Linked DNA regions of Homo sapiens: region 2 is reported to be linked to region 1. The links are microRNA targets in miRTarBase. Many come from high-throughput screens and were not tested one by one. Region 1 holds a microRNA gene; the other region holds the end of a gene's coding sequence.

What was found. Region 1 holds the annotated microRNA hsa-miR-511-5p (GUGUCUUUUGCUCUGCAGUCA, at 920-940, opposite strand). A microRNA usually pairs through its seed, bases 2 to 8, with sites in the 3' UTR of a target mRNA and lowers its output. Matches are read on the target gene's strand: a 7mer-m8 pairs with bases 2 to 8, a 7mer-A1 pairs with bases 2 to 7 and ends in A, and an 8mer does both.
Region 2: the mRNA of PROP1 is a reported target of hsa-miR-511-5p. Seed matches in the 3' UTR shown: 8mer at 352-359.

Annotation. Positions count from the first base shown.
Region 1 is chr10:17,842,648-17,846,061 of GRCh38, reverse strand. It overlaps MIR511 (microRNA 511), which reads right to left and starts at 955; the gene lies at 869-955. MRC1 (mannose receptor C-type 1) reads right to left here. Exons shown (of 30, transcript NM_002438.4): 6 at 627-773.
Region 2 is chr5:177,989,598-177,993,011 of GRCh38, reverse strand. It overlaps PROP1 (PROP paired-like homeobox 1), which reads left to right. Exons shown (of 3, transcript NM_006261.5): 3 at 1-777. The coding sequence ends at 303. Among named protein-coding and RNA genes, the nearest start is that of PROP1, 4.9 kb to the left of the region's middle.

The DNA.
Region 1 (3,414 bases):
ATGGCACACATCTGTAATCCCAACTACTCGGGAGGCTGAGGCAGGAGAATCACGAACCCAGGAGGCGAAGTTTGCAGTGAGCTGAGATCGCGCCATTGTACTCCAGCCTGGGTGACAGAATGAGACTCTGTCTCAATAAATAAATAAAATTCAGTTACAACTTTTTAGATATTTTATTCTATTTTATGAAAACTTTAGTATAAGACGCTACACTGAATAGCAAGGAAGCCCAGATAGAGCCGTGAGGACCTAATATAAACATCCCTTCCAAATGTTGACTTTCTAGCTTGGATTCCGGTTTTGCCATGTCTGCAAGGTTTCTGTATCCTCTGAATATCTTTTTCCTCAACTATAGCATGTGAATCATGACACCTACCTCAGAGGACTGATTGGGAAGGTAACATTTTTATTTAGGTCAGAGGATCTCCACAATGCCCAGACACCGCCGCACACTCAGGAAATACTAGCAACCAGCACACAGAAATATTGCAGTAATATCATTAAGTTTACCCCATCAACTATCCACAAAACCTCTGGCGGCATTCCAACAGTTACACCTAAGCTGTAATGTTACTTATCTTTCAATTCTAATAGTTGAGGCACTTCAGATCCCATAGATCACTTACCTGAGGGAATAACAAAAGAATTTAAAGTGGTGTTGCCCTTTTTGCAAATATAGCCCAGTTTCTGAACACATTCCAGATTTTCCCATTTAGCATTTTTTCCAGGATTTAGTGACACACAGCTTTTTCCAGGTTCAGCTGATGGACTTCCTTCGAGGAAAAGGAAAAGTTAAAGTGGACTATTATAGCTATTCCCAGCAGATAGCATCCCTCCCACGTCTCCTCATGTCTTCATCCTGGGGATTCAATGGACCACCATTCTGTCTTTTGCTACACATTCACAAAAAAATATTTACTGACTGCAGAGCAAAAGACACGATGGGTGTCTATTGTTTTCTTATCGTTGGATCATTCCAATACTTAGAATGTTGATAAAGCAAATATACTTCTTTGAAACAACCCTTTCCCCCATTATCAGCTAATAAAGCTACACCTTAAAACTTGAACAGTTGTCACAACGGATTACATTATCAAAGAGAGGTACCTAATGAAAAGAATGCATGATTATGCCGCCATAAAAAAAAATGAAATCATCATGTCCTTTGCAGCAACATGGATGCAACTAGAGGCCATTATCCTAAGCGAATTAATGCAGAACAGAAAGCCAAATAGCCATGTTCTCACTTCTAAGTGGGAGCTAAATACCGAGTACTCATGGACACAAAGATGGCAACAACAGAAACTGGGGACTATGAGATGGGGGAGGAATGGAGGGTAACAAAGTTTGGAAAACTAGCTACTGGGTTCTATGCTCACTGCCTGGTTGATGGGATGGATCATTTATATCCCAAACCTCAGCAACATGCAATTTACCTAGGTATGTAACAACCGTGTACATGTATCTCTGAATCTACAAGTAGAATTTATTAAAAAGAAAGAATACATGATGTTCCAAACCTGCCACACTAAACATTATTAGGGCAGGGCACGGTGGCTCACGCCTGTAATCCCAGCACTTTGGGAGGCTGAGGCGGATGGATCAACTGAGGTCAGGAATTCGAGATCAGCCTGGCCAACATAATGAAACCCCATTTCTACTAAAAATACAAAAAAATCGGCCGGGGAGCTGGCGGGCACCTGTAATCCCAGCTACTTGGGAGGCTGAGGCAGGAGAATTGCTTGAACCTGGGAGGCAGAGGTTGCAGTGAGTGGAGATCACACCACTGCACTCCAGCCGGGGTGACAGAGTGAGACTCTGTCTCAAAAATAAAAATAAAAATAAATGGAGGAGAAAAAGCTAATGGGAGAGCTAGATGGGCAGCATGCTGTGCTCCCAGAACTAAAACTGTCTCAATATCTTCAACTCAGCCTACTGAAGAAGACTTTCAGCAGCTATGCCTTATCCATTTCTTAGTGGAAACTGATTAAAGAACCAGATAAAGTCAACGTTGCTAAAGGGATGAATGTAGGCATTGATACATTTCACATGCGTTTTGCTACTCTAATATATGATTTAAAAACCAGTACTCCCCAAACTAGCTTCACCTTCCACCTGAAGACAGGGTGAATGAGCCACATTCTGTTAATACCTATGCTTTGTGACCTCCAATGTGTATGTAACCTGTGCCTGAATGTCACTTCCTTTCCTGCAAGACGGAAATCATATTACCTGCTCCACAAAGTCTGGAGCAGGTAATAACCTAAATAACCTTTTTAAAGTTTTGGTGGTATTCTTTGTGTGGTAATTAAATGATTTTTTTAAAGTTTATTTAACTACCACACAAAGAAAATAATGGTTAGTAATAAGCATTAAGTTATCTTTTTTTTTTCTTTTTGAGATGGAGTTTTGCTCTGTCACTCAGGCTAGAGTCCAGTGGCGTGATCTCAGCTCACTGCAACCTCCACCTCCTGGGTTCAAGCAATTCTCTGCCTCAGCCTCCTGAGTAGCTGGGACTACAAGTGCCCACACCATGCCCAGCTAATTTTTGTATTTTTAGTATAGACGGGGTTTCACCATCTTGACCAGGCTGGTCTTGAACTCCTGACCTCGGGATCCACCCGCCTCAGCCTCCCAAAGTGCTGGTATTACAGGCGTGAGCCACTGCACCTGGCCAAAGTTATCTTAAAGTTAGTAATAAGCATAAAGTTATCATAAAGTTAGTAATAAGCATAAAGGTATCTTAAACATTTGCTGATACTGTAACTAAAATAACAGGATAACTGAACTAACAGATAAGGTATCAGCACTAAAAAGAAACTTTCAAACAAATACATTTCTAGCTCTAAGTTATTAATTGATGTGCTAATTAGTAAATCATATTACACATTTATTTATCAATACAATACCTCTCTCAACTTTGAGACATCAACTAGTGGTTTTGATGTTTACCATAGTTATTATATATTTGAATTCACACTTGTACATCATTTATGCAAAACATCCTCACTTCAAAAGTGAATATATTTTAATATTTTCATTACTTGGTAATTATTCAATTGAATGCTTGACTGAACAAATATGAAACCGATTTTTAATTTCCACAAGATCTCTAATTTTAGTTGGAAGAAACTCTCATACTATTTCGCAAGGTGATTTAATCTTGCACCTACTTCTTAGGAATTGAAGTTTAATTTTAGAAAGCATTTGCTTCCCTTTCTTAATCATATTCCACTTTCATTCTTTACTCCACCCAAAGTTAACCCGGAAGTTTTCTCCCTGAACTCGTAGGATGCAAGCGGTTAAATATAATCATCACCCCCAAGTGAATAAATTAAATGACTGCCTAATATGTATAAAAATTTAGCAACACAAAGAAGAATAAATTCTAGTCCCCTAATAAGTTTTATTGTC
Region 2 (3,414 bases), not on the chromosome of region 1:
CAAGAGCGCTCACTGCTTCAGCCTCTGGCCCATCTGTCTCCTGCCGCCTTTTCCAGCTTCTTGCCAGAGTCCACTGCTTGCCCCTATTCTTACGCAGCACCACCACCACCAGTGACCTGCTTCCCTCACCCCTACAGCCATGCCCTCCCTTCCCAGCCCTCCACAGGAGGCGCCTTTGCTTTGTCACACCAGTCTGAGGACTGGTACCCTACCTTGCACCCAGCCCCTGCCGGCCATCTGCCCTGCCCCCCACCCCCTCCCATGCTCCCCCTCAGCCTTGAGCCATCCAAGTCCTGGAACTGAGGTCAAACAAGTACCACCAAGGTGATCCCCAGCCTGCGGCCCTCGTGAAAAGACAAGAAAATGGGGTGGCTTCCTTTCCATCTATGGGTGAAGCAGATGCATGGTGAGGGTCAGCTCAGCGATTAGAAATTTAAAAATGGGAGATCATGGTGAATTCTCACTGGGGTGATTAGTGGAGGAAGTCTGGGGAGGTGAGCTACTGGAAGAGACAGGGCAAGATGCCTCGGTGGAGCTGCCTGCTGAAGGGTGATATTGATGAAGACAGTTGCTGGTGAGTGGAGATGATTGAAGGGCTAGGAGGTGAGGGCCTTCATTAATTGAGATCACGATTGAAGAAGATCCCAGCTCTTTCTGGCTGATTTCAGTAAGGCTTCTGACTTAAGAGTCTACCTATACATCCCTTCCCCATTGCCCACCCCGCCATCTCAATCAGTCACTGACTTTTGTTTATTCTGTCCTAGAAATACCTTTTTTTTTTTTTTTTTTTTTTTTTTGAGACAGAGTCTTGCTCTGTCGCCCAGGCTGGAGTCCAGTGGCACAATCTCGACTCACTGCAAGCTCCACCTCCTGGGTTCACGCCATTCTCCCGCCTCAGCCTCCCGAGTAGCTGGGACTACAGGTGCCCGCCACCACGCCCGGCTAATTTTGTTTTTGTATTTTTAGTAGAGACGGAGTTTCACCATGTTAGCCAGGATGGTCTCAATCTCCTGACCTCGTGATCTGCCCGCCTCGGCCTCCCAAAGTGCTGGGATTACAGGTGTGAGCCACTGAGCCCAGCCGAAATATCTCTTCAGAGTGTCCCCTCCTTTCCATTCCAGCAGACACTTGGCTTTTTCTGACCCCGTATTTTCTGACTTATTGTCGCATAGGTTCCCTTAACTCTAGTCTATCCCACTTCCAACAAACCTGTGCAAATCTCAACATCAAGGAATGCTCTCCAATGTCTTATAAAAAATACATCAATCAGATTTGATTAGTTTTGCCTGTAGAAGTCTTCAACATCTGCCTTCAACTTTTAAATCAGCGGCACATTTTAACATATGTGGTTTCTGATAGAGAAGAAACCATTTGATTTAGGGCAAACTTTTCTAAGACGAAACCGTCTGAGGCTGATGAGGGGTCATTCCCAGGAAGGGACCTGCCTCTTCTGGGAAACGCCTTGGTCTGAACCCTCTCAAAAGAAACAGCATGGAGCCTAGTTCATGGTACAATTTTTATGCGATATTGCTTATTATGCACTTATTTTACTCACAATTCACTTATTTATATGTATGCTTACCTCTCTTATTGGAGGGTTCATAGAAAACTTTTTTAAATTAAATTTTTTTTTCTTTTTTGAGACGGAGTTTTGCTCTTGTTGCCCAAGCTGGAATGCAATGGAGTGATCTCGGCTCACTGCAACCTCCGCCTCCCGCGTTCAAACAATTCTCCTGCCTAAGCCTCCCGAGTAGCTGGGATTACAGGGTGTGCCACCGTGCCCGGCTAATTTTTTGTATTTTTAGTAGAGACGGGGTTTCACCATGTTGGCCAGGTTGGTCTTGAACTCCTGACCTCGAATGATCCACCTGCCTCAGCCTCCCAAAGTGCTGGGATTACAGGTGTGAGCCACTGCGCCAGGCCTGATTTTTTTAATATTTAATTTTTATTTTTTCATGTGCCTCTAGATATGATTTTTATTCTTGGTTTTTTTCCCCTCCCTCTTTCATCTCTCTCCTCTCTTCCAACTCCTCTTCCCTGTCCCATCCCTGCTACCCATTTAGTGGGAAGGAAGTTTCCCTGTGCCTGCAGCCCTGCTCCCCGACCCTCAGCAGGGTTACCTCCTGCAGAAGCAGGGCAAGGGGTAGGGACAAGGGACGGGGAGGCAGCTCGATGAAGTGAAGAATGAAGCCCCTGGAGGGAGGTGGATGGTGATGGCAGCAGTGGTGGCTGTCAGCCGGCATTCTCGTGCTCACAGCACTTCACAGAAGAATTTTTTTTTTTTTTTCTTGGGACTGAGTCTCACTCTTGTCACCCAGGCTGGAGTGCAATGGCGTGATCTCAGCTCACTGCAACCTCCACTTCCTGGGTTCAAGCGATTCTCCAACCTCAGCCAACTGAGTAGCTGGGATTACAGGCATGTACCACCACGCCCACATAATTTTTTTTTTTTTTTTTGAGATGGAGTCTCCCTCTTTCGCCCAGGCTGGAGTGCAGTGGTGTGATCTCGGCTCACAGCAACCTCTGCCTCCCGGGTTCAAAGTGATTCTCCTGTCTCAGCCTCCCGAGTAGCTGGGACTACAGGCGCCCGCCACCAAAGCCGGCTAATTTTTGTATTTTCAGTAGAGATGGGCTTTCACCATATTGATCAGGCCAGTCTCGAACTCCTGACCTCAGGTGATCCGCCTGCCTCGGCCTCCCAAAGTGCTGGGATTACAGGCGTGAGCCACCACACCCAGCCTCACCTAATTTTTGTATTTTTAGGAGAGCTGGGGTTTCACCATGTTGTCCAGGCTGGTCTCAAACTCCTGATCTCAGGTGATCCACCTGCCTCGGCCTCCCAAAGTGATGGGATTACAGGCATGAGCCACCACACCCGTCCCATAGAATAATCTTTAAACGGGCCTTTAGTGATGGATACTCAAGTTGTGAGTAGTTTTTTATATATATTATTAAAAAGTCTGGAATCACAACCCCTGTATTACACAATTGCACTCCTACCTAATTATCTCCTTGAGCCAGACTGCCTTCTAGAAAAATTACACTGGTTTGAATTCCACCAAAAGAACCTGAGTATTGGTTTCAGCACCTCCTTGTTAACCTGTACCATTTTTGACAATTTGTTAACTGAGAGTGATGTCTTCTTGTTTGCTTATTTTAAAATGTTCATTAATTGCTAGTGAGAGTTAAAAGTTTCATGTTTATTGGCAATTTACATTTTTCTTTTCTGCATTGCCTCTGTGTTGTGTATTTGTATATTGATATAGTCATCTTTTATTAGCGTCTGAGAGCTTTGTGGATTAGGGATATGAATTCCTATTCATACATGTTACAACCAATTTTTTTTTTTTTTTGAGACATAGTCTCACTTTGTCATCCAGGCTGCAGTCCAGTGGCACTATCTCGGTTCACTGC